Regions from separate parts of the Homo sapiens genome. Here regions 1 and 3 are each linked to region 2. Evidence: fine-mapped expression QTL. A gene starts in region 2. Each other region holds a variant in brackets. All regions are shown on one strand. Distances are between the middles of the regions. Region 1 overlaps PTPN12 (protein tyrosine phosphatase non-receptor type 12). Region 2 holds the start of APTR (Alu-mediated CDKN1A/p21 transcriptional regulator). Region 3 overlaps RSBN1L (round spermatid basic protein 1 like).

Evidence for each region.
Region 1: its variant is fine-mapped to the expression of APTR in tibial artery (GTEx, PIP above 0.99).
Region 3: its variant is fine-mapped to the expression of APTR in whole blood (INTERVAL, PIP above 0.99).

What each region holds. Positions count from the first base shown.
Region 1 is chr7:77,603,770-77,611,952 of GRCh38, forward strand. PTPN12 (protein tyrosine phosphatase non-receptor type 12) reads left to right here. Exons shown (of 18, transcript NM_002835.4): 9 at 3,466-3,532; 10 at 6,996-7,073; 11 at 7,179-7,277. Among named protein-coding and RNA genes, the nearest start is that of PTPN12, 71 kb to the left of the region's middle. The variant C/T (reference allele first, on the strand shown) is at 4,304.
Region 2 is chr7:77,692,103-77,700,285 of GRCh38, forward strand. It overlaps APTR (Alu-mediated CDKN1A/p21 transcriptional regulator), which reads right to left and starts at 4,163. Exons shown (of 2, transcript NR_134254.1): 1 at 3,794-4,163. It overlaps RSBN1L (round spermatid basic protein 1 like), which reads left to right and starts at 4,357. Exons shown (of 8, transcript NM_198467.3): 1 at 4,357-4,953. The coding sequence starts at 4,368. RefSeq lists enhancers at 1-465, 3,452-4,347, 4,348-5,243, 4,428-4,657 and silencers at 4,178-4,397, 4,868-5,187, 5,478-5,577.
Region 3 is chr7:77,732,680-77,740,862 of GRCh38, forward strand. RSBN1L (round spermatid basic protein 1 like) reads left to right here. Exons shown (of 8, transcript NM_198467.3): 2 at 3,731-3,847. Among named protein-coding and RNA genes, the nearest start is that of RSBN1L, 40 kb to the left of the region's middle. The variant T/A (reference allele first, on the strand shown) is at 3,238.

The sequences.
Region 1 (8,183 bases), 88 kb before region 2:
TTTTTTAATGTGTTATCCAGAAAATTGATGCTACTTAATTCTGCCACTGGCAGTATGTGAGAGTACCTATTTCCCTATACCTTCCCCAATACTGTGTGTTATCTTTTTGTTTGCTTTTTTTTTTTTTTTTTTTTTTTGAGACAGAGTCTTGCACTGTCGCCCGGGCTGGAGTGCAATGGCACGATCTCAGCTCACTGCAACCTCTGCCTCCTGGGTTCATGCGATTCTCCTGCCTCAGCCTCCCGAGTACTGGGATTACAGGCACACACCACTACACCCAGCTAATTTTGGGTATTTTTTAGTAGAGACGGGGTTTCACTATGTTGGCCAGACTGGTCTTGAACTCCTGACCTCATGATCTGCCCGCCTCCACCTCCCAAAGTGCTGGGATTACAGGTGTGAGCCACGGTTCCCAGCCTTTGTTTGCATTTTTTTCTTCCTTTTTTTTTTTTTTTTTTTTTTTTGAGACGGAGTCTTGGGCTGTCGCCTGGGCTGGAGTGCAATGGTGCGATCTTGGCTTGCTGCAACCTCTGCCTCCTGGGTTCAAGTGATTCTCCTGCCTCAGCCTCCCGAGTAGCTGGGATTATAGGCATGCACCACCACACCCGGTTAATTTTATATTTTTAGTAGAGTTGGGGATTCTCCATGTTTGTCAGGCTGGTCTTGAACTCCTGACCTCAGGTGATCACCTGCCTCGGCCTCCCAAAGTGCTGGGATTACAGGCGTGAACCACTGCGCCCAGCCTCATCTTTTAATAGTTATACAAGTGCTTTATATATTGAGGACATTAACTTTTATTCATGTTGTAAGTACCATGGTTTTTCCTGTCTTCTGCCTGTTTGCAATACATAAGTTTCATTTTGTCATGTCAGATTTTTGAATGGTTTTTGTCCATTGAGATATTTGTACATAGAAAGTCTTTCCCTAACACAATAGTGTATATATTTTGCATATATTTTTAGTACTTTCATAGATTTACTTTTTAACATTTATCATTGGATAAATATCCAATATGTTTATATCATATATATATATATATTTTTATCCACCTGGATTTTTTATGGTTAAGGTATGTGATCAGAATTTAATTTTTTGCTCTTCATTGATAGCTAACTTCTCCTTTGCCACTTACTGAACGGTCTGATCTCTGGAGAATTCACTGTTATGTAAGAAATGTTACATGTACTCAGATCTGTTCCTGAACTTTCTATTGTGTTTCATTGATCTGGTTATCTGTATCTTTATGTTATACTTTTAACTATCAAATTTTAGATATATATAATTTATCCCAGTAACTCAACTAAAATTCTATAAATGTTTTGATGCACAGAATTCACAAATGTATCAACTAAAAATTAATATAATTGATTATGTTTATTAAGAGTTTTAAAAAATCTTTCTAGGTTGTTTATAGTGTACTTTTATCAGGAATTTTAGGTTACATGTTTAACAAACTGCTGATAGGTATACATTTCAAAATATGCATTAAAATGTTACACAACTTTGTGGGGGTTTTTGCCAAAGATTATTCTGGTGATGTCAGTAACATCTTATAATTACTCATAGTGATTTTCAATTCTAAGATGCATAAGCCTTTCTCTAGTTGAGAAGCAGTTACTTTAAAATACTTTTGTCATGAGTTTTTTTTTTTTTTTTTTTTTTTTTTTTGAGACGGAGTCTCGCTCTGTCGCCCAAGCTGGAGTGCAATGGCGTGATCTCAGCTCACTGCAACCTCCGCCTCCCAGGTTCAAGTGATTCTCCTGCCTCAGCCTCCCAAGTAGCTGGGATTACAGGCGCCCACTACCACGCCCGGCTAATTTTTTTTTTTTGTATTTGCAGTAGAGACGGGGTTTCACCACGTTGGCCAGGCTTGTCTCCTGACCTCAGGTGATCCGCCCTCCTTGGCCTCCCATTGTGTTGGGATTACAGGCGTGAGCCACTGAGCCCAGCCTGTCATGTTTTAAAATAAAAAAACCTATGGTATGTTACTCTAAAGTCCCCAGCTCCCATTAGTTTTTTGGGATATGAGAGCATATCATTGTCTTGTTCTTTTGTGGAAATCACTGCTGTTGCTCAATCCGTTTTCTAGGGCTTATAGCATTCTTCACCTTTCCTATACCTTCTATAGATTGAAATGATGTACCATTTCCTCCTGTACTCTAAAACAAGAGCCATCTTTTTTTTTTTTTTTTTTTTTTTTTTGAGTTGGAGTTTTACTCTTGCTGCCCAAGCTGGAGTGCAATGGCACGATCTTGGGTCACTGCAACCTCCACTTCCCCGGTTCAAGTGATTCTCCTGCCTCAGCCTCCTGAATAGCTGGGATTGCGTGTGTCTGCCAGCACGCCCAGCTAATTATGTGTTTTCAGTAGAGATGGGGTTTCACCGTGTTGGCCAGGGTGGTCTCAAACTCCTGACCTCAAGTGATCCACCGGCCTCAGGCTCCCAAAGTGCTGAGATTACAGGCATGAGCCCCTGCGCCCAGCCACAAGAGCCATCTTGAACATAGAATAAATGTCTCTGTAAGACGTTGTTAGCTAGTCACATTTTCTGATGTAGCATTAGACTTCCAGAGTGACAACTTAGTAGCTATTCTCTGTGTCACTTACTCTTGGAAGTTCCTTAAATTAATTTTTGTTTTTCTTTTTGAGATGAAGTCACACTCTGTTACCCAGGCTGGAATGCATTGGTGCCATCATGGCTTACTGCAGCCTCGACCTCCCAGGCTCAAGCAATCCTTCTGCCTTGGCCTCCCAAAGTGCTGGGACAACAGGCATGAGCCACTGCGCCCAACCCCTTAAAAATGAAATGTTTAAAAGATAGAAGACAATAGGCCTTCCTTATTCAAGACTTCACTGTCCTCAGTTTCAGTTACTCATAGTTCAAAAATATCAAATGGAAAATTTCAGAAGTAAACACTTTGTAAGTTTTAAATGCTGCACCATTCTGAGAAGCATGGGGAAGTATGTCCTGCTTGCAAGATAAATCATCCCATGGTCCAGTGTGTACACACTGTAGACTCTACCAGCCCATTAGTCACATAGTAGATACTGCAGTTACCAGATGGACTGTCATGGTGTCCCAGTGGTTATGTTCACATGACCCTTATTTTACTTATAATGGCCCAAACCTCAACAGTAGTGAGGTAGTGACTAGTGATAGATTGTTATAATTGTTCTAATGTATTATTAGTTATTGTTGTTAATCTCTTGTTGTGCCTGATTTATAAATTAAACTTTATCATAGGTATGTACATATAGGAAAAATCATAGTGTATATGTATATGTATTCTGTGTAACAGATGTTGCCATGAACACACTGTAAGTTGTATTTTGTTTATTACTAAGTAGAATTTTGTCAAACTTCTTAAATGATTTTTTGTTTCTGAATATTAACATGTCTATCCACATTTATTTTATAGTTGTTTTATCACAAAAATCAATTGTTTTTCAAACTTTATATCCTTAGTGCAGGCTGTGGAAGAACAGGTGCCATTTGTGCCATAGATTATACGTGGAATTTACTAAAAGCTGGGGTAAGAATAATTTTTTGTAGCATTATGTTCAATTGATCTATTATGATTTTCAAACTTAATTATAATTGCAGTAAATTATAGTGTATATTTTATTATACATGTTATTTTTTCCAAAGTAGTTTTATTAAGTAAGAAATAAAGGTAGTGAAGGCCGGGCACAGTGGCTTACGCCTGTAATCCTAGCACTTTGGGAGGCCAAGGTGGGAGGATCGCTTGAGCCCTGGGGCTCGAGACCAGCCTGGGGAACATAGGGAGACCCCCGTCTCTAAAAATAATTAAAAAATAAAATGATTATAAAAAATAAAGGTGGAGAAAAGGTATAATTGCTGCATATTGCCTTTGATAGGATGCATTGGGGAACAATGTGACAGTGTTCTAGGTGAGTGAATACTTGCATTAGGATATAAACTGTTACTGACTTTTCCAATACTAAATTTTCATTGCCTTTTTTTTTTTTTCTTTTTTTTCCGAGATAGAGTTTCACTCTTGTTGCCCAGGCTGGAGTGCGATGGTGCGATCTCAGCTCACTGCAACCTCCACCTCCTGGGTTGAAGCCATTCTCCTGCTTCAGCCTCCCTAGCAGCTGGGATTACAGGTGCCTGCCATCACGCCCAGCTAATGTTTTATATTTTTGGTACAGACAGGGTTTCACCATGTTGGCCAGGCTGGTCTCGAACTTCTGACCTCAGGTGATCCACTCATCTCGGCCTTCCAAAGTGCCGGGATTGTAGGCGTGAGCTACGGTGCCTGGCCCATTGCCTTTTATGTTTA[C/T]TCTAGGTATAAGTGTATTTCACTCAGTATGTATTTATGCCTGCTGGAGACATTATAGTATTGTAGTCTATGAATGCTGACTCGAGCCAAATTGCCCAGATTATAATTCTGGCTTTCTCATTTACTAGCTGTGGGATCTTGGTCAAAATACTAATCCCATAGTGCCTCTATTTCTTTATCAGAAAATAGGGGTCATAGTAGTAGTAATGCATAAGAATTAAATAACTTTTGTGAAGTTCTTCAGAACTATGTGGTAAATTGTAAGTACTCAGTTTATTGTTAGTGTTGATTACTGTTGCTGTTGTGATTGTTGTTCCTACTACTGCTTTTTCCAAGAAATAGTGTTTGATACTGTGGATGATACAGAGATAAATAAGATACAGCCTTCATTATAGATTTGAAAAACAAGTCTCTTCATTATGTATACATTTGATTCTTTTGCTGGTTCCATAATGTGTTCATTTCTAGAGAGGCGCCTTTAATCCTTCATAGCTTTATAGTTTCCATGAATTGTTCATCTTTGTCTTGTACAGAGTAGAATTAATAAAATGTTTATTTTTTCTTTTTCTTCCTTCTTCCCCTTATTTCTCTTTTTTCCCTGCCATCTCTCCATTTTTTATTGTTGCAAGGAAATATTTACATGTTAAACAGTTCCTTAAAAAGCCCTCTGGGGTTAAATATTTTTTTCCTCAAAAACTATAATCATCTAATTCTCAAATGAAAATGCTTAAGTGAACAAAATTTAACTGGAATTCGATCACATTTTAACATAAAAGTCAAAGATTAAAATTGGAATGAGAAGGGACACATAAATGAATGCTAGCAAACAAAACAAACATTTGGTCATTTTAAAAGTTGTGTATTTTGGATAGGTGCCATGGCTTATGCCATAATTCCAGCACTTTTGAAGGCTGAGGTGGGCGGATCACCTGAGGTCAGGAGTTTGAGACCAACCTGGCCAACATGGTGAAACCCCATTTCTACTAAAAATACAAAAATTAGCCAGGCGTGGTGGCCGGCGCCTGTAATCCCAGTTACTTGTCAGGCTGAGGCAGGAGAATTGCTTGAACCTGGAAGGCAGAGGTTGCAGTGAGCCGAGATTGTGCCATTGCACTGCAAACTGGGTGACAGAGCAAGACTCCGTCTCAAAAAATAAAATAAAATAAAAGTTGTGTATTTTGAACATAGTTCTCTCTCTCTCTTTTTTTTTTTTTTTTGAGATGGAGTCTCACTCTGTTGCCTAGGCTGGAGGGCAGTGGTGTAATCTCGGCTCACTGCAACCTCTGACTCTCAGGTTCAAGCGATTCTCCTGCCTTAGTCTCCCGAGTAGCTGGGATTACATGCACGCGGCACCATGCCTGGCTAATTTTTGTATTTTTAGTAGAGATGGGGTTTCACCGTGTTTCGGGCTGGTCTCAAACTCCTGACCTCAGGTGATCCGCCTGCCTTGGCCTCTCAAAGTGCTGGGATTACAGACATGAGCCACTGCACCCGGCCTAGTTGTTAAGTCTTCATGTAAAAATCTTGGCTGGGCGCGGTGGCTCACGCCTGTAATCCCAGCACTTCGGGAAGCCGAGGCGGGCGGATCACGAGGTCAGCAGATTGAGACCACCCTGGCTAACACGGTGAAACCCTGTCTCTACTAAAAATATAAAAAAAATCGCCAGGCGTAGTGGCGGGGGCCTGTAGTCCCAGCTACTCCGGAGGCTGAGGCAGGAGAATGGCGTGAACCCGGGAGGCGGAGCTTGCAGTGAGCGGATATCACGCCACCGTACTCCAGCCTGGGCGACAGAGCGAGACTCCGTCTCAAAAAAAAAACAACAAAAAAAAAACCCAAAAATCTTATGATGTATATAAGGACTTCCAAGCAGCAAACCTGGAAATCATTTTTAACCCTTCCATCTTAATCACTCCAAAATATTCTTGTTGATAACAGTTATGATATTTCTGCTTCTGTAAACCTCCGCCAGTTTCTCACTCTTTCAGACTGTCCTCTTCCTTGATACAAAAATTGTGTGAATATCAGATCTTCTCATGTCAACATTGCCTATTGCAGTAGTCGCAATTCCATATACACAAAAGAATTGTCTAGGTCGTTTCATAATTAGTTCCCCAACTTGGAGCCAAAGGATCTATATTTTTACCTAGGTCTTTTAGCTGGTCCTTATATAGCCAATCCAGGAGATACTGGCCAATAGAATAAATTCAGTCTCTTTATTATGTTCACAGTCTGATCCTAAATATCCTTATCTTCTCTCCTCCTTTGAGTACCTTCTCCTTCTTTTAGTCTTAGGCTTTGTTTACATCAAACTTCTCAATTCCCCACATAGATTATACATTGAATCTGCTGTGCTTATGTATATTTCCTTCACTTTTTATGGGATAACCTTCTTTTGATATCCAACTATGTTGTAGCTGCACACACTCAACAGTTAGCCATAGCCTCTTTATTCCCTGTATACTGCAGTCATACTTTGGCTGGACATAACTGTCTCCCCATCTTGAATGCTGAGGGTCAAGAACAGTTTTGTTTCCACAGTGCCAAGCACAGTGTCTGAGATGCATTAAGTGGTGTTCAATAAATGTTTGCAGTAAACCAGCAGGTATTTAAGTTTTATGTGAAAAGCTGAAGAAGATTTTACTATTTTCTGAATAGATACACAAAGTTGATGTATTAAATTTTCTGTTTTAGAAAATACCAGAGGAATTTAATGTATTTAATTTAATACAAGAAATGAGAACACAAAGGCATTCTGCAGTACAAACAAAGGTATAGTTGTTTGTTTCCCTTTATAAACTGCTATTTTATAAATGCTTTCTTCTTTTTTAAAATGTTGTTTTCATTTTGTTTTTTAATCATTTTTCTCCTTCATAGGAGCAATATGAACTTGTTCATAGAGCTATTGCCCAACTGTTTGAAAAACAGCTACAACTATATGAAATTCATGGAGCTCAGAAAATTGCTGATGGAGTGGTAGGTGTTCTTGGTCTATTAATTTTAGGAAACTTTTACTCTTTGTTAAGATGTAATATTTAGCCTTTTTTTTGTTGTCTTGTGTTTTGTCTAACATGAGAAGAATATCCAGGACACTTAACATTTTTACTTAAACTCATTTCCTTCTTATTCGTATCTGTATTATGATGGCTATTTAATGACTCCGATATAAGGTAAATTATGTTCTAAATGAAATAAAGTTAGGAAAGATCTCATGTCAAAAATCATATAATTCGTTAATGTTTTACTTTTTTAAAAAATAATTGCATTGTTCTCTTTACTCTTCCCTTCCACCCCCACCCAAGTAATTCTGCATTGATTCTACTTGAATTTCATTTTGTATAAAGTGTTTTAGTTATTTGTGTATATGCTTTTCTTTTCTTTTCTTTTTTTTGAGACAGAGTTTCACTCTTGTTGCCCAGGCTGGAGTGCAATGGCACAGTCTCAGCTCACTGCAACCTCTACCTCCCAAGTTCAAGTGATTTTCCTGCCTCAGCCTCCTGAGTAGCTGGGATTACAGGCGCACGCCACTGTGCCCAGCTAGTTTTTGTATTTTTAGTAGAGACGGAGTTTCGCCATGTTGACCAGGCTGGTCTCGAACTCCTGACCTCAGGTGGTCTGCCCGCCTTGGCCTCCCAGTGTGCAATGTGCTGGGATTACAGGCATGAGCCAACACTCCTGGCCTTGTGTATATGCTTTTCAGTTAAGCAGAATTAAAGAGCCACAGTTAACTCCCTTTTGTTGTGTTATAATTCAGTGTTATTTTAGCCTTGTAACATCTTACTGGATATTCAACTTCTAGACCTGACAAAAACACTGTATTCTCTTAGTATTCTCATTTCTGCCTTTGTTTTCTAACCAATTGTCTTGCTTCAATTCTATATA
Region 2 (8,183 bases):
TAGCCTGGGTGATAGAGCTGAGACCTGACCTCAAAAAAAAAAAAAAAAAAAAGAAAAAAGAAAAAAAAAAGGTGGAGAAGCAGGGTGTAGGGTAGGTAGGGTAGTATGCTTTCGGTAGAGCTGTTACAGAGAATGAAATGGAAAAGGAAGCAAGAGATAACCAGTGAGTCAACAACACCAACGACTGAAAAGCAAAAAGGAATGGAGATGAGAAAAGGCACGTCGCGTTCAACAGGTCCAAGGTCCAAGAGTACCTGAAACTTGTCACTCTTCCACTGTTTCTTGGCTCAGGGAATGGTACCACTGCCAAGTTTTGCTGGTTAGAAATATAGAAGGTATTCATGATATCTGCCTCCCTTATGTTCATTATCCAAATCATCACATAGGCAACAGCCAAAGGAAAAAGCACGTCAAGTAGAGAGAATCACATATGCAATGTTTCTATGTTGAAAGACAACATGGTGGGTTCTGGAGATTAAAGACCTGTTAGTTTGAAATAGAAGAAGGGGATAGTTCATGAAAGGTCTTACAGGACACATTAAGGATTTTGTTTTTTGTCCCGAGAGCAATGAAAGCCATTGACTTCAGGTCTGAAGCAAGGCAAGAGAGATGGTCAGATCCAGGTTTTTTCGTTTTCGTTTTTTTTTTTTTTTTGAGACAGAGTCTCATTCTGTCGCCCAGGCTGGAGTGCAGTGGCGTGATCTTGGCTCGCTGCAACCTCCGTCTCCCAGATTCAAGCGATTCTCTACCACAGCCTCCCGAGTAGCTGGACTACAAGGACGTGCCACCATGCCCAGCTAATTTTTGTATTTTTAGTAGAGACAAAGTTTCACCATGTTGGCTAGGCTGGTCTCAAACTCCTGACCTCAGGTGATCTGCCTGCCTCGGCCTCCCAAAGTGCTGGGATTACAGGCATGAGCCACTGTACCCGGCCAAGGTTTTGAAAAGAGCTTTCTAGCTGTAGAATGGAAAACCTATATGAGATTATAAAGAGATTATGCTAAAAGAAATTGGTGATAGTGGTAGAAAACCTCTGCCAGTTAAGTGTTGACAAGAATAATCTAGTTGAAAGGGAATGGCTAATTACACAGCACAGAAAAGAGATAGTTGCGCATGTTTTAATAACAGACAAGTCCTGTCTTTAGATCTGGGTAAGGGGCCTCTGTTTACTTGGCCCTCCTCTTGCTGTAAAGAACAAGGAGCCCATGAGGTCAGGGGCCATGTCTGCCTGGAGCCTGCCCTCCTCTTTTAGACTGGCTAGATCTGAGGGCAGAGTGAGCTGCCGATTGTACATCACCATTTGCGGAGTAGGGGGATGTGGACATACACCTGGACATGTTGGGTGCATGTATGGCCTTTCCGTGTGGCAGGTGAACTTGGGGATGGGAGGAGAATGGGGTCAGTGTGGGGACTCTAAGAACTCTAAATTCAAACATGGACTTCCAGATCATATGAAAGTGGATCTGTCAAGGTAGTAGAATAGAATGTATTTTATATAATAGTTTGTTATCTTGATTTATTTTTTAAATATTTAGACAGATGGTGTGTGGACCTCTATAGCCACACTCTTGCTTAGGCTCTACAAATTAAGTGCCAGGCCTAATAACAGTGCATGAAAGTATAATGTAATGCAAGGAGTAACAAATTCATGCAGGCAAGGGTGTAGTTTAACTGGGCTCTTAAGAAGTCCGATTTTCCAGACCTGTGTGCTAGAGATTAGAGAATGAGTGGTGCAAGTTTCCAGGCACTACATTAATGTATGTTAGAGACACTTTTCTAGATCAGGAGGGCCAACAATTAAAAAATGAATTCAATTGTAATGGTTTCGGTGTGATTTTGAAAAGCTTCTTGAATATGGCATAAGTTGAGTGTGGAAGGGACCTTAGTGATCACGTAATCAAATATGCTAACTCAACAGGTAAGAAAACGGAGGTCCTAACAAGTGAAGCAGCCTGACTAAGGTCACGAAACTAGTGCGTTAGCAGATGATTTCCAGCCTAATCCACTCAGTCCACTCTCCCACCAATGCTAATTTTCTTGAAGACATCTGCTGCCAGTCAATTCCAATTAGAAAGTTTTCATGTTACATATTAAATACTGTTATTACTTTAAAAAATTTGAGGCACATAAAAATAAGTCCATAAACCAATATTAAATTTGACTCCAAAACATTCTTTTTTTTTTTTTTGAGATGGAGTCTTACTCTGTCACCCAGGCTGGAGTGCAGTGGCACGATCTCAGCTCACTGCAACCTCCACCTCCAGGGGTCAAGCGAGTCTTTTGTCTTAGCCTCCCGAGGAGCTGGGACTACAAGCACGCACCACCACGCCTGGCTAATTTTTTTTGTATTTTTAGTAGAGACGGGGTTGCACCATGTCAGTCAGGCTGGTTTCAAACTCCTGACCTCAGGTGATCCACCCATCACCGCCTCCTAAAGTCTTGGGATTACATGCGTGAGCCACCCACCACTCTTGGCCGAAAAAAAAAAAATTCTTAAAAATATTCTTAAAAAAATGAGTAAATAGGCACTGTCGCCCCGGGTGGAGTGCAATGGCACGAACTCAGCTTACTGCAACCTCTGCCTTACAGATTCAAGGGATTCTTCTGCCTCAGCCTCCAGAGTAGCTGGGACTACAGGCGCATGCCACTACGCCCAGCTAATTATGTATTTTTAGTAGAGGCAGGGTTTCACTATGTTGGCCAGGCTGGTCTCGAACTCCTGACATTGTGATCTGCCCGCCTTGGCCTCCCAAAGTGCTGGGATTACAGGTATGAGCCACCGCGCCCGGCCACATTCCTTATCTTTTAAGCTAAAACCCATCTCCCCAAATTGCTTATTTTCGAAGCAAAAATCAAAGCACATGCTTACAAAACATCGAACACGCAGTGTGCTTACTAAACGCTAAAATACAGAAACCTAAAAAAACAATTCTTGCTTTTCAAACATCCATAAATAATCGCCAACGAATTTTTCCTGGCAAGTCTACGTTATAATAATAATAATATTATTATTATTATTATTATTTTTTGAGACGGAGTCTTGCCCTGTCGCCCAAGCTGGAGTGCAGTGGCGCAGTCTCGGCTCACTGCAACCTCCGCCTCCTGGGTTCAAGCGATTCTCCTGCCCCAGCCTCCCCAGTAGCTGGGATTACAGGTGCGCGCTTCCATGCCCAGCTAATTTTTGCATTTTTAGTAGAGACGGGGTTTCACCATGTTGGTCAGGCTGGTCTCGAACTTCTGACCTCGTGATCCGCCCGCCCCGGTCTCCCAAAGTGCTGGGATTACAGGTGTGAGCCACCGCGCCCGGCTATAATAATTATTATAAAATTCAAATCTTAAGGCCGCACATGGTGGCTCACGCCTGTAATCCCAGCACTTTGGGAAGCGGAGGTGGGCCGCTCACCTGAGATCAGGAGTTCGAGTCCAGCCTGGCCAACATGGTGAAACCCCGTCTCTAATAAACACAAAAATTAGCCAAGCATGGTGCCGGACGCCTGTAGTCCCTGTTACTGGGGAGGCTGAGGCAGGAGAATCGCTTGAATCTGGGAGGCGGAGGTTGCGGTGAGCCGAGATCGCGCCACGGCACTCCAGCCTCGACAACAGAGCAAAACTCCGTCCCAATAAATAAATAAATAAATAAAATAAAAATCTTAAGGGTCTAGTCACAACAGTTCAAAAGTCTCCAAAGGGAGACTCTCACCTTCAAGCTTGTAAGTAATACTAAAGTTCTAGATTTGCTGGAAGTTATCTCCTTCAATGGATTACAGCACATGATCTAGCAATAATAACGTACCTTGTCACCACATCGAATGATTTTGAACACTTCCCATCAATCGACTACCGACTAACAAAAAGAAGGACTTGATTCCCGGCAATTTTTTCTCTTCTGAACTGAGCATTCCCGAAATCCAGCTTGCTGAACGCGCAGATGCAGGGTGAGAGGCACCCCAGGAAAAATGGAAGGGAAAGTGGTACAAGTTAAAACAGTCTTCGTGGCCGCAGAGACGATCGCTACCTCGGCCATGGCAGATCTGGGGGTCCGGGGCGGGGGTTCTTCCCTGATACCCACCGGGCACGCGAGTTCACGCCAGCGACAGTGGAAAGCCCTCCCCTCGCAGCGCGCTCCGCCACTAGCCGCACCCCGCCGAGCTCTGACCTCCGAAGAGGGTCCCTGTGGCGATCCCGCCCCTTCGTCTGATGTTTGTGCCTTTGATTGGCTCTTAGGTGGATCCCTCAGCGTGGCTTGCCCAATGGAGCAATGCCGGCTGGTGGCCTGGCCGCTCCGCCCCTTCCCTACCCCTCGCGGAGGGCCCGCCCCCTGCCCCGCGCCGGCTAGCGGAGGAGAGTAAATACAACAGGAGCGCAAAATGGCGGAACCGCCGAGCCCCGTGCACTGTGTCGCTGCCGCGGCCCCCACCGCCACCGTCTCGGAGAAAGAACCGTTTGGCAAGCTGCAACTCTCCTCCCGGGACCCTCCGGGTTCTCTGTCCGCCAAGAAGGTCCGGACTGAGGAGAAGAAGGCACCGCGGAGAGTGAACGGAGAAGGGGGCAGCGGCGGGAACAGCAGGCAGCTGCAGCCGCCGGCAGCACCTTCGCCTCAGAGCTATGGCAGCCCCGCGTCTTGGAGCTTTGCCCCTCTGTCTGCTGCTCCCTCCCCGTCCTCTTCTCGGAGCAGTTTCTCTTTCTCCGCTGGCACGGCCGTTCCCTCCTCAGCCTCCGCTTCCTTGTCTCAGCCGGTGCCGCGCAAACTGCTGGTCCCTCCTACGCTGCTGCACGCTCAGCCTCACCATCTCCTCCTGCCCGCCGCCGCCGCCGCTGCCTCGGCTAACGCCAAGTCGCGCAGACCTAAGGAGAAGCGGGAGAAGGAGAGGAGGAGGCACGGTCTCGGTGGGGCCCGAGAGGCCGGCGGGGCCTCCCGGGAGGAGAACGGGGAGGTGAAGCCGCTGCCCCGAGGTGGGTGCCGTGCGGGGAGGGGGAGGGGAGGGCGCCGTGGGTCCCCGCCGCCCCCTGGCGCCCACGGGGCCCGGGAAGGGGGAGCGCGGCGGCCGCGTGCGCCGGCCTGGAGGGGCTGGGAGGCGTCCGGTTTTCAGCAGAGGATTTTGCAGTTCCCAAGGGGACAGGAAATGGAGCCTGTAATTTCGGTTGCAGAGAGGGGGATGGCCGACACTCTTATTTTCTGTATCGTTTCTTCCTCCCAGTTAGTGCGCTGCAGGATTTGTGAAAATCCATCTTGAGGACTCTCCTAGGTTTGTTTGGCTAGGGAGAGAGATGGAGGGAACGGGATGGGGGAAGGGTTTGGTTTTGTAAAAGATGCTTGATTGATTGTTAGACCACTTAGACGTGGTCGCGGGAATTCGTATTTGTGACACAGCGTTCAACCCCGGATAATCCTGTCAAAAAAGGGGTGTGGAGAGAGCACTGGCGTCAGCTGGAAGCTACCAGAGGCCTGAGCTTTTCATCCCTATTAGGGAAATGAGGTAGCGTGCAGGGCCCGAAGTGCGCTGTTTCGTAAGGTACCCTCCCTGCACCCTACTCTCCGCTGCGTATTCTTAAGTGTTTTGGGTGGTCCTGTTTGAAATACCACCCTTCTGAAAGAATTTTCAGCCATATTCTTTTTTTCCCTGCAGCAAATGATAAAACCAGGAGCTTTGACGATTTTTCGCCAGATCAAGCGGCTGCAGAATGTTTGAGCATTAGAAAAAGGCGAATTCTTAAGGGTTCTTGTCAGACAGGGTCAGTTTTGTTTTTAAATGTAGGCTAGTCGTATAATTTTTCAGGTGTTTCCACCACTTCAGCTACGGATACACAATGATCTGACAATAGTGCAACATACGGACTAGTTGAAAATCAAATCTTTATGTGATCGCAAGCTTAAAGCGCATAATCTTTATTATAAATGTGCACTGCTACACAGTGTTGTCAAATAACTCTTTTTGTTTTTTAGAAAAAGAAATGTCAAGCAGTTTCAGCATTGCTGATCTAACAGTAGCTCAGATCATGAAAAATTCTGTTTGGATTATAATGGTTTGTTTTCACAACTTAAAACATGCTGCATGTGCATGTAGCAATAGTGTCACTTCTTCCTTGATATTTTTTGCCTGTAGCAAAGCTTTAACATCTAAGCATAGCCATCAGGGACTCTGGTGCAATGTAAATATCTTTCAGCTTCTGGGAGTGTTGTTTCTAGGAAAGTGGTTTTGAGGATGGGATTTTGGTACTTTTAGTCAGGAATTCCAGGTGATTAGTATTTTAAAGCTATTTTGTTTTAACAATTTATATGTAAAATTTAGGAGATAAGTGCCTGGAAGTTTGTCCATATGCAGCTTGGTATCATCACTAGTGTTTGTGGTGTGTAAACTGCACATTTGCTGTAAGTTCTCTGAAAGAGGAAGTGAATATGAGTATTACATAGTTGGAGTAATGGAATATTTGAGAAGAAATAAGTAAGCATTCTTTAACAATTCTAACTTAAAATGTGGAGTACACAAATGGTCCTTAAAGTGAAATGGCTGTTAAAGAGGAATTTTTATAGTCTTTTCAATTACATTTAGAATCCTTCTTCTTTTGAGGGTTAACACTAATATTATTAATCCTGAATATAAACAGTGATAGGTTTTACATTAAGATGTGGGAATGATCTTTTCCCATGACCTATGTGGGTTTTTTGGAGTAGTGACAAGATATTAACACTACTGTAAGATTTTCATTTTTTCAGACACAAATGCTATCTTGTTGAGGAAAAACTATCAGAGAAAAAGATTCCTTTCCAGTGTCTTGGTGGTAAATTTAATGGTGAAAATTTTTCCCTCGTAACTTGGGGAATACTTATATCTTTCTAAAGTTTGGATTTAACTGAATTGATGTTCTGTTTTAACGAATTAAGAAGATTCTTAAATAGCGGTATTAACAAGTGGTATAGCAAGAATACATATATGCCTTTATTATAGATATAATTGCAAATATGAAAGTCCTGATTTGCAATACAATGATCATTTCTCTGTGCTTTTTGTAAAAATCTTAGTGAATGGGTGACCAAGTGTTTGTTTAGGTATATACCTCTTTTTAGTGTTGCCCTAAGTTGGCTGTGCATGGTTCAGTAACCCCTCAATTATCCACAGCTGGCTGATTGAACAGTCTGAGTCAGAACCAGACATTAGCTATAAAGACACCTAAACAAGGAAGAGATTCTCCCTCAACAAAACAAAACTGAACCACACACACTCGAAAGACCTAGCCTGCACCCCAATTTGATTAAACAATTAAGCTCCTGTATTTATTAATAGTAGGGCTTTTAAAAAGTCCTAAGTCAGAACTGCTTTATTTTTACATTGGTGACCATTCTAACAGAACGTATTTGGGTTAAATGAAAGCATGTATAAGAAAGGGCCTAGCAGGGTATTTAGTAAATGTTATTTGAGTCTGAAGCATAGTTATTAATTTTTTAACCCTATAACTAATTGAAAGATGGGTGAATGCTGATAGAGGAAGGATCATTGACAGATATGAAAGTTAAGAATGCTGAACAAGAGAATTATGAAAGTATACTAATATGGCCCCATTTAGTACCAGGGCCTGATGCCTCACAATCTCTAAGGCCATCTAATCATAGTACTGTAGCTGACTTGCGTGATAGCTTGACTCACCAAGTAAAAGTTAAATTTCTTATAAGAAGGAAAAGTGCAAAACAGTTTAGATTTTTTTTTTTTTTTTGGAAACAGAGTCTCGCTCTTGTTGGCCAGGTTGGAGTGCAGTGGCGCGATCTCGGCTCGCTGCAACCTCCGCCTCCCGGGTTCAAGCAATTCTCCTGCCTCAGCCTCCCGAGTGGCTGGAATTATAGGCACTCGCCAACACGCCTGGCTAATTTTTGTATTTTTAGTAGAGAGGGGGTTTCACCATGTTGGCCAGGCTGGTCTCAAACTCCTGACCTTGTGATCTGCCTGCCTTGGCCTCCCAAAGTGCTGAGATTACAGGCGTGAGCCACCGTGCCTGGCCAACATTTTAGATTTTTAAAACCAGAAAATAACCTGATTTTAGTGCTTACGGAGGTAATTTACTGGAGAGTTAATCAATATTCCTGTAAGACTGAATAAATTGTAGAATTGGTAAGTGTGGAAAGTAAAAGTGGACATATACCAAGGGTATCCAAAATTTAGAATTATTTTATGGCAAACCACAACAAATAT
Region 3 (8,183 bases), 41 kb after region 2:
GATTTGATTTTTATATACAGTGGTCTGAATTATGGCCAAAATTTCTTTCTTTGGGATTATGGATACCAATATTATAGGTAAATAGATATTATTCTACATTTGGAAGGCTTTTATCTTTACAAACTGCCTCAGTATGTATTTTCTATTTAATCTTTACACAAACTCCATTTTACAGCTGCAACTGGAGATCTGAAAGTTTGTCAGTTATCTAGGTTGTAGAGCATAATCTTGAACCTAGGTCTCCTGAGTTTGTAGGTATCCCACTTTATCATAGCTCTGCCATGTAACATGACTACAGGAAGTTTAATGGAGGCATTTAAGGTTGGATTTTGGGCTGGGCGTGGTGGCTTAGGCCTGCAATCTGAGCATTTTGAGGGGCTGAGGCAGGAGGATTGCTTGAGCCCAGGAGTTCGAGACCAACCTCAGCAACATAGCGAGACCCTGTCTCTATTAAAGAAAAAATAAAGAATAAAAGACTGGATTTTGAAAAAGGATAGGCTCTACCAAAAAGTGGAAAAATTGTAAGAAGGGTGAAAGGTAGGTTGAAAGGCTGAGAGGTGAGAGCAAGACAGATGTGTGGGTTAAGGACAGAAGTGATGTCACAAAAAAATGCCCTTTGTTTATGTATAGATGGGATTATTTGTGTTTGCTGAGGATGTTTTGATATCAGGAGGGGTAACTGCAATTACGTTGTCTATAACTCTCCTGTCTTGGCTTTGCCATTGTTTTTGTTTCTATAGATGTTTTTCACATAATAACTTCATACCTTCAACTGTACTTGAATTATTTAATATCATACCCGAGTGCATATTCTAAGATTCCTTTTCCTGTGTTATGAAATTAATATGTGCCCATTGCAGAAACTTAGAAACTTTCCACCTTAAATAGTGGAATTTTAAATGTTAAATAAATTAAATATATTCAATATGTTAAATATTTAATTAAATAAATAATTTTAAATAATGGCTTTTAATAATTTGGGTTATCTTTCAGTTTGTTTTTGGAATGTATGTATATTTCTAAAGTTTAAAAATAATTGAGTCATAGTGTATGATAGTTTTATTTCCCTAGAAGCTAGTTTAATTTTATTCTGAAAAATATTTATGTTTTGTGATTGTGGTAGGCTTATATAGTGAATATATGCTATTAAAAGTTTATAGTTGTTGGCTGGGTGTGGTGGCTCACGCCTGTAATCCCAGCACTTTGGGATGCCAAGGCGTGCAGATCACTTGAGGTTAGGAGTTCGAGACCAGCCTGGCCAACATGGCGAAACCCCATCTCCACTAAAAATACAAAAATTAGCCGAGTGCGATGGCGTGTGCCTGTAATCCCATTTACTTGGTGGCTGAGGCAGGAGAATTGCTTCAACCCGGGAGGTGGAGGTTGCAGGAAGCTGAGATCGTGCCACTGCACTCCAGCCTGGGCCACAGAGCAAGACTTTGTCTCAAAAAAAGAAAAAAAAGTTTATGGTTATTTTAACCTGTATGATTACAAGTCAGCATCCTGAGTACCTTTAGGGGTGCTATACAAAGACTGGAAGGGAACACAGAAGGATTCTGTGGTGCCGTTTCACAAGTATCTTCATTTTATTACATTAATATTATACTTTAATAAAATTTAATAGTTACTAAAATAATACGTTTAAGTTGATAAGATTAAATTGAATTATTGGAAAAAGAAATGTGGAGACGTTTTAGGTGACTTTTTTTCAGTTGTAATTTTAAGTGATATATAAATAGTTCATTTTGTTAGAAGTTTAGTTACTTAGGAAATATTATATAATGTGTCTAAGCTCCAGCTACTTGGAGTAACATTTTTTTTTTTTCCAAGATGTAATCTCACTCTGCCACCCAGCCTGGAGTGCAGTGGCATGATCTCGGCTCACTGCAACCTCCACCTCCCGGGTTCAAGCGATTCTTCTACCTCAGTCTCCCAAGTAGCTGGGATTACAGGCATGCACCACCACATCCGGCTAATTTTTGTATTTTTAGTATAGATGGGGTTTTGTCACATTGACCAGGCTTGTCTTGAACTCCTGACCTCGGGTGATCCGCCCACTTCGGCTTCCCAAAGTGCTGGGATTATAGACGTGAGCCACCGCGCCCGGCCTGGAGTAACATTTTATAGCTAGACAGCAGCCTATGACAGGATTTCAAGGACTTTAACATCAGAAAGTAAGAGTGGCAAACCAATCAGAAGTGTGGGAACACTGTAATCTAATTCAGAAGTTAAGTTATATGTGAACAGATAAGGAGTTTTATCTCGTTTATTCTCCCCTGTATCCCTAATCTTTTTCTTGTACTCAGACTGTGTATTTGTTGAGTCAGTGAATTCCTGTTTGCTGTACTTTCGTATGCTTGGAGTGTTATCACTTGAAAAAAAAAAACAAAAAACACTTTGTCAGTGTTATAGGTGAAAGTAATGTCTTTTAATTTGTATATTATTAATGATTGAAGTTTAAAAATGTTTATTAGCACATGAATTTAATTTTTTGAAAATTTATTTAAGTAGTCTAGACCTGTGCTATTCAGTATGGTAGACACTAGTTTTATGTGACTATTCAACACTTAAAGTGAAACTAGTTTCAAATTGAGATGTGTCATAAATGTAAAATATATGTTAGATTTTGAAATCTTATGAAAAAATGTAAAATATCTCATCATTTAAAAATATCAGTTCCATGTTGAAATTATAATGTGTTGGATCCATTGGGTTAAGCAAAATATATCATTAAAATTAATAAAATTGTTTACCAATTCAGATTTAGATTACTGTCTAGATCTGGACAGTGCTTATATAGACAGTAATCTAATCACTACATGATTAGGACCTGGGTTATGGTAGTGTTTATAGAAAGGAAAGTAAGGAGTGATTTTTAAGAGATTATGCAGTATGCATGTATACTATATAATCTCTACTATATTCCAGGACATTTCACAGTTCTTGTATACTTCCATCATGGTTTTGTAATCAGTCGTAAGCTTTTTGAGGGCAAAGGTTTATGTCACTATTTGTATATCCTTCTCTGTATTTTGTCTTTTGCTGGGTGCATAGGAAGTCATTTGAACAAAGAAGAATTTAATAGGCTATCAAATATTTTGTTTGAAGTTTTAGAATGCAAATGAATGATCCCTAGAGTTATTATGCCCTTTATTTAAATATCACAGTATCACCAAGTAGTCAGATTGAGTCATACTATTTTTAAAAGGAGCCAAGGGTAAGGGAACCAACATCTAG[T/A]CTTATGTATGCCAGGCTCTATGTAGTCATTTTATATATTTTTTCATTTAGTCCTTATAGTAACCATAATGAGGAAGGTATCAATTACCATTTACAGATTAGGAAACTGAGATCAAGTAATTTTTCTGTTATGCTGCTAATCCATAGATGCTCAATTTCAACACTGGCACTTTTCCATCGTAGCTTTTGCTTCACCTAAAGTTAGTTATTTTAAGTGATTTGAAATAAATTTAATATTTTGGTTGACACGAAGTGAAGAATACTTAGAATAAAATGTATAATGATACATTTTGACAATATGTATTTCATATTCAATAAAAAGGGAAATTTAGAAATATTCCCCAAAACCTGAGAGGAAAAAGAAAAGGCATTATTTGTTCCTCATTCTGATTTTCTTTGTGTATTGTAATTCCAGAAATTTACCTATAGTTTGTGCAGATAAATGAAGTTGTAATTTTTTCATTTTAAATATTTCCTTTGTTTTGTCTTCCAGATAAAATCAAAGACAAAATTAAAGAGAGAGACAAAGAAAAAGAAAGAGAAAAAAAGAAACATAAAGTAATGAATGAGATCAAGAAAGAGAATGGAGAAGTAAAGATTTTGCTGAAAAGTAAGTTTTATTCAGTGATTTTAGTTCTACTTTATTATACTGTTCAGTATCTTTATTGGCTAAGTGAATAAAATAAGAAATGTTATTTGGTGCTGAATTTTGCGGAGAATGAACAATGATGAGGAAATGAAAAGTAAATGTAACAACGGAGAGTTCTAATCTGTATGGTAACATGTCTTATAGTATATTTAGTGAGCCATTAAAAAGTTAAAAGGTTAAGCTTCGTTAAACTTAATTTCTTAAATTATTTTAAAATAAGTTAATTCTATGTTTGCATTACTAGTCTTACTCATATTTAGATAATCTAAAAGGAAGAAATTAAGAAAAATTGCCAAAGCAAGTTTTAGTATGATAGGGATGGTGAAGTAAGTGATCTTCTTAAAAATATTTGACTGTCATCACCATACCATAGTCTAGCATTTAGAGGGAACATTTTACTCTGAGCTAAATCAGAAGCGGTATGTTTCTTGTATGTTTAAGAATATCCTTGTTTTATTCTTTTTTTTCTCTGTTACAGTTGCATTCATTTGCTGTTTATATATGAGGGTGGGGTGGAGAGAAGAATTTGGGGGGTAGGTGGTTGGGTAATAAGTATACTGCAAATCCTGTCAATAAGTCTGAACTTGTAAAGAGAGAATTTGTGGTAGAATAGACGTAAGGATAGTCTTAAATTCACTCAGATGTCAAGGTAAGAAGAATCCGTGGCATTCGGTTGCTAGACAACTAGCGAATTCACTAGCTAGCAAATTTACTAGTGCTATCATGTTGATAGTTGATGATGAGAATATGTTGACCTTGATTAACTTCATATTGAATTTAATTGTTGATAAGGCTTTATATTTGCTTGAGGGGGAAAGACCACGACACTGCATATGTAGCAAAATAACTGGTAGTTTATATTATCTAAGATAAAGAGTATTAGATTCTGTATTTTCATTGCATTCTTTGTCATGTTTTCAGATATTCGTTTTCTATTATCTACATGTCAGAACTTCATTTTCTACGATATTCTTTCAACCTTGAAGAAATACGTCAGAGCTTAAGTTGATGGCTGCTTATTAGTTAATGCTCATGATCCTTTTGTTCTGTTTCTTTTGCCTGCATATTCTATCTGTGTTGTCTAATTAGATTGTAAGCCTTTGAGGCAGGAATTGAATATAACCACACTAGTTATTTATAGCAGCTAGTGATGAATGCTTGAAAAGTCTGCTTAAGGCCAGGTTCGGTCGCTCATGCCTGTAATCCCAGCAATTTGGGAGGCCGAGGCGGGTGGATCACTTGAGGTCAGGAGTTTGAGACCAGCCTGGCCGATGTGGTGAAACCTCGTCTCTACTAAAAATGAAAAATTAGTGGGGCATGATGGTGGACATCTGTAATCCCAGCTACTGGGGAGGCTGAGGCATGAGAATTGCCTGAACCCGGGAGACAAGAGGTTGCAGTGAGCTGAGATCACCCCACTGTACTCCAGCCTGGGCAATAGAGTGAGATTCAGTCTCAAAAAAAAAAAAAGAAAAGAAAAAGTCAAGTCTACTTAACTTTACCCTTGGTTTAGCCCAATAGCCATTTTTTTTTCTGATTTAATCAAATAGTTTTCTTATTCATTTGAAAATATCATGCTGTAAATTCTATTACTTGAGAAGGAATCTGTTTTAGAAATACTTTATAAAAGCCTCATATGTTCTTGATTGAATACTGGATTCCTAACATAATGTGAATTATGTGAATCCAGAGATTACACATGAAAATAAAATTTAAAACAGCCTAAAAATTGAGATTTTTAAAAAATGAAATATACGATATTAACTTTGAAGTAGACAAAAATTTAGGTGATATTTTGAACCGAGTTAAACTGAAACTAGTGATGATTAAGGTAAAAGAATGAGATAGATGTGGAAATTAATTTGTGACTTCTGGGATGTCCATGGAAAAATTTAGGGAAAATGTATTCACAGTGGAGGTAAGTAATAATTTAATTACTGCCTTACAGTGTTACCAAGATTAAATGAGGGAAAGTATGAGGAAAGTGCCAAGTATAGAATCTGGCTCACAGGTACTTACTACTGAGTAGTAAATAGTTATGAAATCTTTCTTGTAAGTATGTATGAGAGATTAACTTTGTGATTAAAAAGCAACAAAATTGGCCAGGCACAGTGGCTGAAGCCTGTAATCCCAGCATTTTGGGAGGCCGAGGCAGGTGGATCACCTGAGGTCAAGAGTTCAAGACCAGCCTGGCCAAGTTGGTGAAACCCCATCTCTACTAAAAAATACAAAAAATTACGGTGGGTGCCTGTAATCCCAGCAACTCGGGAGGCTGAGGCATGTGAATCGCTTGAACCCAGGAGGCGGAGGTTGCGGTGAGCCAAGATGGTGCCACTGCACTCCAGCCTGGGCAACAGAGAGAGACTCCATCTCAAAAAAACAAAAAACAAAAAACACCAATAAAACCAAACTATCTCCTCTCCTCAGTGTGTAGTACATAGATAATTAAGTGAATAAACACATGATTCATTGGGAAAACAGTGCTTGTCGCATTGAAAGCACTGAGTGTTATCTGTTGTTACTATCTACGAGAAAGAATTTGCTTAGTATGTGGGGCCATTTCCCAAGTGAGCCTGTGGTGGTGGTAGGGAAAGGCATCTTTTGTTGTTGGTGACTTGGAACAACAAATCATTTACTTTGCTGAGGGAAAATATACTTTCATTTACTACTGTGTGCCACTTTTTTCCTTGTGGCCTCCAACTTTTATTCTATCCTTGTAATTTTTTTCTTCTGTTAATGATAATGTTGCAAGCTGTGGTATACACAGGTGTTGATGGATGATGGCATTTGAAAATCTAAAATAGATGTCAAGTATGTCACACCAATTCATTTTCTCCAGGTTTTTCTTAAAAATTGTGTCAGGTAGGCTGGGCGCAGTGTCTCACGCCTGTAATCCCAGCACTTTGGGAGGCCAAGGCGGGTGGGCCACTTGAAGCTAGGAGTTTGAGACCAGCTTGGCCAACCTGGTGAAACCCCATCTCTACTAAAAATAGAAAAATTAGCCGGGCGTGGTGGCGCTCGTCTGTAATCCCAGCTACTCGTGAGGCTGAGGCAGGAGAATTGCTTGAACCCAGGAGGCAAAGGCTGCAGCCGAGATTGTGCCACTGCACTCCAGCCTGGGTGACAGAGCAAGACTTGGTCTCAGGAAAAAAAAAAAAAAAAAAAAAATGTGTCTTTTTTTTTTTTTTTTTTTTTTTTTTTTTGAGAGGAGTCTTGCTCTGTCATCCAGGCTGGAGTGCAGTGGCGCGATCTCGGCTCACTGCAAACTCTGCCTCCTGGGTTCAAGCAGTTTTCCTGCCCCAGCCTCCTGAGTAGCTGGGATTACAGCCGCACGCCGCCATGCCTAGGGCTAATTTTTTGTATTTTAGTAGAGACAGGGTTTCACCATGTTGCCCAGGCTGATGGCGAACTCCTGAGGTCAGGCAGCCTGCCTGACCCGGCCTCCCAAAGTGCTGGGATTATAGGCATGAGCCACTGCGTCCGGCCTGTCAAGTTTTTTCTGACTGGAAATACACACAAAATTATATATATGATAAAAAGTGTTTTATTAATGCGAAAACCTTATAAAAGTTTATTTGGTAAGAAAGTTGGATTATTTGCTCTTTTCAAAATAGTTTAAAGGAACAAATAAGTTTGAAACAAAGCTTATTTAGTGGGTCTTATTTTATACTAAAGTTCACCAACTGCTTTTTCTGATTGTATGCATTATGTTCCAGGCATTTTTATGTTGTTTATTAATGATAAAGTGTGAGAACATGTGTTATGATTATAGTATTTTTTAGAGTAAATGTTTGTCATTATAGCATTTTAAATAAGTTTGCTGGTGAGCAGTTAGAATGAGGGTTGAAAGAAGCCAGTGTCCAAGGTGACTGGTAGTGTACTAAAGGTCACAGGTAGGTAAATCATGGCTGGAAGAGTGACAACATTGCAGTGCAAAAAAAGCAGATTCGAATCCCAGAGGCCAAAAGTTGAGAATAACTAAGCTAATTAGTACTTTTTTCCTATATGTAATAATGGGATGGGGGAGAGAGAAAGATAGATATAAATTTTATAAATTTTTCTGAATTTTGTTTTTCACTTTATTAATACAGAAAGTATACGAAAATTAGTGGTAGAATTAACTCAATGAATTTGTGATCTTAAAAGTTTTTTTTTATTTTTCTTTTCATAATTAGCCATTAACAACACATGCTGTCTTTGTTTCTGTGTGCGCTTCTTTCTGCCTCTGTGAGTGTCTCTCTCTGGCTCTAAGTATACCTGCATCTCTGTTTCTGATTCCCTCACTCCCAGTCTGGCA